Linked DNA regions of Homo sapiens: region 2 is linked to region 1. Evidence: fine-mapped expression QTL. A gene starts in region 1. The other region holds a variant in brackets. All regions are shown on one strand. Distances are between the middles of the regions.

What was found. PIP is the estimated chance that this variant, and not a neighbour inherited with it, causes the effect.
Region 2: its variant is the best candidate, but not a certain one, in a credible set for the expression of HERC3 in whole blood (TOPMed, PIP 0.66).

What each region holds. Positions count from the first base shown.
Region 1 is chr4:88,590,995-88,593,910 of GRCh38, reverse strand. It overlaps HERC3 (HECT and RLD domain containing E3 ubiquitin protein ligase 3), which reads right to left and starts at 1,431. Exons shown (of 26, transcript NM_014606.3): 1 at 1,337-1,431. RefSeq lists silencers at 406-815, 1,136-1,695, 1,866-1,925.
Region 2 is chr4:88,689,621-88,692,536 of GRCh38, reverse strand. All of the region lies in intron 23 of HERC3 (HECT and RLD domain containing E3 ubiquitin protein ligase 3), which reads right to left. Among named protein-coding and RNA genes, the nearest start is that of NAP1L5, 6.8 kb to the left of the region's middle. The variant A/G (reference allele first, on the strand shown) is at 1,244.

The sequences.
Region 1 (2,916 bases):
TTATAATGCTACTCCCTCCTCCCCCAGGGTAAAGGAAAGTACAAAAGGAGAGAGCTTCACAGTAATCTGCCGACTAAAACATGATACCCGATCACCGCATTTAAAACTTTTTATTTTTTCATTTCTCTCAAGTCTAGAGTTGAAAAATCAGCTCACTTGATCTTATCTAATCATCAAATAAAAGGTTCTAGAAATAGCTTCTTATTTGTGGAAAGAGCCAGAAGACACATACAAATGGAAGAGAGCTCTTGAATCGTCTTTCCCAAAGCATTCTATGCGTGATGAATGCAAGCAAAATCCTGGAAGGCTTTTCTCTGAATTAGGTACTTCCTAATTGAGCTCATTTGAAAGCTGATGTAAAATGCAATCAGAAAGCAGCCAGAAACAGTGACAGACCAACAGCAAAGTTCAAATACTTATTCCCTGGAGCTCATGCTGCATACACATATTCCGTGCACAGTCGCATTAGGTACTGTCTCCATAGGCTCACCTGTTTCAGGTTACACATGCTCCTCTCGGTCTGGTTGCCCTGGTTTGCCCACTCCACACATTCACAAATGACTCAAGTCTCACCTGCCCCCGGCCGTCCCAGCTCCTGACACCCCCGCGTCGGTCCGCACCGACGTGTCGGCGTACACACACACACACACCCGTACACACGTGTCCGCACACACCCTCGCCCCCGGCCCCGCCCAGGAGGCGGACCCGGGAGAGGCGAGCCGGCCCGGCCTCCGCGAAGTGGGTGGTGCCGGGCCCCGCAGCCCTGCCGGCGCTGTCATCGCGGACGCCGTGCACCGCGTCCTCGGCGCAAACTCCTCGCGGCCGCTGAGGTTCCCCAAAATGCCAGGGCCTCGCCAGCTCCCATTTCAATTGAAAGCGTCCGCGCCCCTCACTGCACGGAGGTCCCTGGAACCCCAGAATTTAAATAGGGGCAGGGGGCGAGCATAGGGACTATCCTCCTTTTGACTTTCTGCGTCGCAATTCCTCCCGGGCGGCAGGGCGGGAGGGCGGCCGAGCGCGGGCGGGAGGCGCTCCCATTTTGAAGGCTTGTCTCGCCTTTCCCGGCGCGGGGCTCTCTGACCGGAGGGCGAGCCCACGAGAACGCCAGGGAGGCGTACGCAGGGTACTAAGGGCGCCGCGCCCCAACCTCCCCGCGCCCCAGACCCAGGTCGTCTCTGGAGGTGCCTGCAGCCCCCGCCGCCGGAGCCACGGGAGGAGCCGCAGCCGCCCCTCCGGGAGCCGCGCGCTGACTGCAGTGCCAGGCGGAACGCGGCCCAGCGCGGCTGCAGCTCCGCCGTACCCCCCTCCCTGGAACCCCGGCCCCCGCCCTGCGCACCTCGGCAGCAGCCGAACCGCAGCTTGGGACTCCGACTGTCACAGCCCCTCTCGCCGGACCCGGGGTTTCTCCGTTTTCGGCGTCACAATAATAAGGAAGTTTCCCCGCAAGCCTGCGGGCGGCGGAATGCGCTGGGTGAATGGCTTCGCACCGGGCCAATGGGCGCCGTTCTGGGATGGGCCCGCGCCAATGGCGGCCGCCGTGGCACGGGCTGGAGGCGGGGCGGCAAGGTCCGCGGGCAGGAGGAGGGGAGAGGCCCAGGCCCCAGAGCCAGGCGCAGGCTGCCCGAGGTGACAGGACTCGAGGGCCCGGCGCGGGGACAGCGGCACGGGTGTGTCAGCCGAAATCGGACTGCAAGACATAGAGCGTTGACGCTGAAATAAGATTGCTTTTCACTGGCGGGGAAGCGAGCTGGACCGATCAGCGGTTGCCTATTCAGGTTCTGGACTCTGGTTTTTATTATTTATGAAGAGGTGACCGAAAGCCTTGGGCACGGGGGAAAAAGCTGGAGGGTGACAATTGAGGGAGAGTGCGCTAGTCTTCTGCTTTACTCCCCTTCGTAGGACTGTAGGAAGCGCGGCGCCGGCCCGCGGCGCTGCGCGGTGGGAGAGGCGGGGAAGGAGGTACGCGGCAGCCGCCGGCGCTCTTCTGGAGAGGTGGGGATCGAAGACCGGCACGGGGCTGCGGAAGAAAGGCGGGCCTGGGGGAGGCTGGAGGGTGGACCCGGGGGGAGCATAGCAAGAAGAGTCTGAGCACCAGATCTTAAAATCTTGTAATCTGAAAGACACTCTGTGGCCTATACCCAGTAACGGATTTTTTAAAAGTTTGTCCTCTTCCACTTTTCCCTAGCGCCGAATCCCAGAGCTTCCTCCCCCTCCCCAAGGTCACTAGTGCTTTCATACTTGCCCTAGACCTGATCTGATCCACAGCTAATCTTTTGCAGAAAACCTCAGAAAGGTGACTTCATGTGTCTGCCCCCCTTAAATGTAAAATGCAGAACACTGGCACGGTACTGCTTTAATCCAAAGGAATAACTCTCCCAGTGGAAGAATTTCTATAACCTGGCATTTGAAGCAGGAAGGCCCTTTGAGGATAGATTCTTACCAAGGACATTCAAATCACCTCAGGTCTGCAATCGCTCGTCCTGAGAACCTAACAGACTGACCAAGTAGAAAAGAAAGTTTCAAGGAGTGGTGTATCCTGGGGATGAGACGTTGTTGGCTGACTGACAGTGTTGAGCCCTCCGTGAAATAATGCAAATTGTCCAGTACACTGAGACAAGAAAGCTAAAAAAGCAGAATCTAAGTTATCAGGTCATCTAAGAAAAAATCCAAACCTTTGAAATTTGGATCACACTTGACACGTTTAGAAACACTGGGGATGGCCAGGCGCGGTGGCCCATGCCTGTAATCTCGGCACTTTGGGAGGCCGAAGCCGGTGGATCACTTGAGGTCAGCAGTTCGAGACCAGCCTGGCCAACATGGTGAAACCTTGTCTCTACAAAAAAAAATACCAAAATTAGCCGAGTAGGGTGGTGTGCGCCTGTAGTCCCAGCTACTCAGGAGGCTGAGGCAGGAGAA
Region 2 (2,916 bases), 99 kb before region 1:
TGAAGTCTGCCAGCGGTCCTGAAGTAGATCTTAAGGAGCAAGAAGTGTTTGTCATGCATGAGTTTTATTCTCAGGTTCTCACTACGGAATCTAGATGCCCTTTGAAGCACTTACCTTAAGTTTGGCATTTCTTACTATGTGATCTCTTTACTCTACTCTCTGCCCCCCACTGCCCCACCCCCCAGCCCCATGTGTGTGTCATCTGTTTCTTTTTTAATATGGGGAAAATGGGAAGACAGCAATTGCATTTAATTTGATTGCATCAAATTAAGGTAAATTTTAGGGAATCTAGAATGACATATGGGTTTTTCACTAATGGTAATTAACACCATATTATAGACCATAAGAAATGCTTAACCATGAGTAGTCATGTGATATAGTATTATCCAGATGTGACTACCAGCTGGTGGCAAGATTTGTCTATGATGCAGCCACCAGTAATCAGCCACAGATGTTCTTTTACCTGGATGCCTACAACTCATTTGACTGTGTAGGTTCTGTCCAAGGATAGAAAGCATTTTAAAACCAAATGAAATGGAATAAATTATGAATACAGAATTGGTATTCCTCTGGCATTTTCCCCTGGGGCAGCAATGCCAGCAAATATCTTACTGTTAACAAAAACAGCCTCAATGCCAGAAGTATCTGTGTATACAACTGCCTAAGTTAAAAGGCCAGTAGGTATTCTTCTTACAGCTATTTCATTTTCTTAGTCATATAATTTAGGACTGCTAATGACTACATTATGGCATATAGCCAAGGAAATAATGACTATAATGATCAATCTTTTACAACTTCATACAGCCTTTCTTACCAGGACCTCAATGTACTTTGTTGGTAAGATTTCTATTTTGTGCAGCATAAAATGAAAAGAAAAAAAAATTCATTCATGTCTTTTTCTGGTGGTCCCTAACCAAAACAGCTATAGTAAAGAGTACAGCAGTAACCATGAATGGGACTGGTGTCCTTATAAGAGTCATGAGAGCTTGCTTCCCAACGCTGCTCTCCACCATGCTAGGATACAACGAGAAGTCAGCAGTCTGCAACGTGGAAGAAGGCCCTCGCCAGAACCTAACCATGCTGGCAGCCTAATCTTGGACTTCCGGCCTCCAGAACATGACAAATACATTTGTGTTGTTTATAAGCCATCCAGTTTATCGTACTTTTTTACAGCAGCCCAAAGACAAACAGGTAACTGTGACAGCAACAGGGTCTCCTGCCTGTCACTGAGTGACACAGACAT[A/G]TACATCAGTGCCTAAAGTAGCATGGATGAGTTCACAGTGTATTCAATGAGTACTCTGAAAAACCGAAATCTAAATTTCTACCTAGTACAGAAGCTGTTCTGTACATCTTGAACACAGTAAAATGCAATCAAAATTTCTGTCTGAAACGACAACTCAGATTTTTCCATCCCTTTACAGAGCACCTTTCATGTTTATATCCTCTTCTCTACTTTCTAGTATCCAAATCTTAGTAGGCTTCCAAACTTAGCTCTATCCCATATCTGTCCTCCCAGATGCATCTGTCCAAGCTGACTTCTCTGAACGCCTTCAGATTCAACCACCCAATTTAGTCTTCATATTCCATTTATGGTTGCATCTGGATACAGCTTATCACCCTAAACAAACTGTGTTATATTTTACTATTCCTGCAGTTTCTCCCACAACTGTTGAGTCAATTCAATTGTTGATTCAAAGAAATGTCTGTTGAATAAGGAGAAAGACAGTGAGAGTGACAGGGAGAGAGAAATGGAGAAACAGAAAGGGAGAAAAATTCAGACTCAGAAAGAGAACAAAAAAGACAGAGACAAAAAATATGCTAAGAGAAATAACTTGACAAAGATATGAAAAGGAGTAATAAGGCAGTTCTGGCCACTGCCTCAATTGCAGACTACATTGCCAATTGCCTATTCCTGCACTAGGTCATTCATTTCCCCAGCCACTGTATCATACTCACAGAGCACTATGATGACTCAGCAGAGGATGAGGACACTCTGAATGTTCCCCTTCCTCAGGATGCTTGCCTATCCCATTGTTAGCTTCTAACAAATGATGCACACATTATCTTGTCTGAAACTTAATGCAAAAGCTAAGACATTGTTTGAAAGACTAAAGGTTACGTATGTATCTACATACGTACTCACACGCATCTACAATGTTATAAAGCAATCCCCAAAACCAGGAGGGAAGGGAAATCAGCTGGGCTAACAAATCTGCTTTATGATCTGCCATAAATTTCCCAATTCTAAAAACATTATCTGACTATATGGAATAAAAAGCCTGGTCTTATTAAGGAAATAAACATCCTGAAGATAAATTATTTACTGTTAACAAAAGTACCAATGTTATATAAAGGAAACTGCTTTTAGCCCCAAGAGATTCTTATCAAGGGTTTTGATTGCAACATTCTTACTTGAATCAAGACTAGCCTCTATATTAGGTTTCTAGAGCCAAGATAATTCCATCAACTGAAGCCAGTTTTGTTGGGTGTCTGGGTGGCTTCTGCATCATTTCACTCAACTCTGATACTATAGCTCACTTTCCCCAAAGCTGAGGCTTCTTGGATAGTCTGGAAGGTTAACATGACAAAAAAAAAATGGTTAATGAATGATGTATGAGATCATACTAGCTTCGAGTCGTTTGTTAAAATGTCAAGGATGGGCCAGGAGCGGTGGCTCATGCCTGTAATCCCAGCACTTTGGGAGGCCGAGGCGGGCAGATCAGCTCAGGTCAGGAGTTCGAGACCAGTCTGGCCAACATGGCAAAACCCCATCTCTACTAAAAATACAAAAATTAGCCAGGCATGGTGGTACACGCCTGTAATCCTAGTTATGCGGGAGGCCGAGGCAGAAGAATCACTTGAACCCAGGAGGTGAAGGTTGCAGTGAGCCGAGATTGCACCACTGCACTCCAGCCT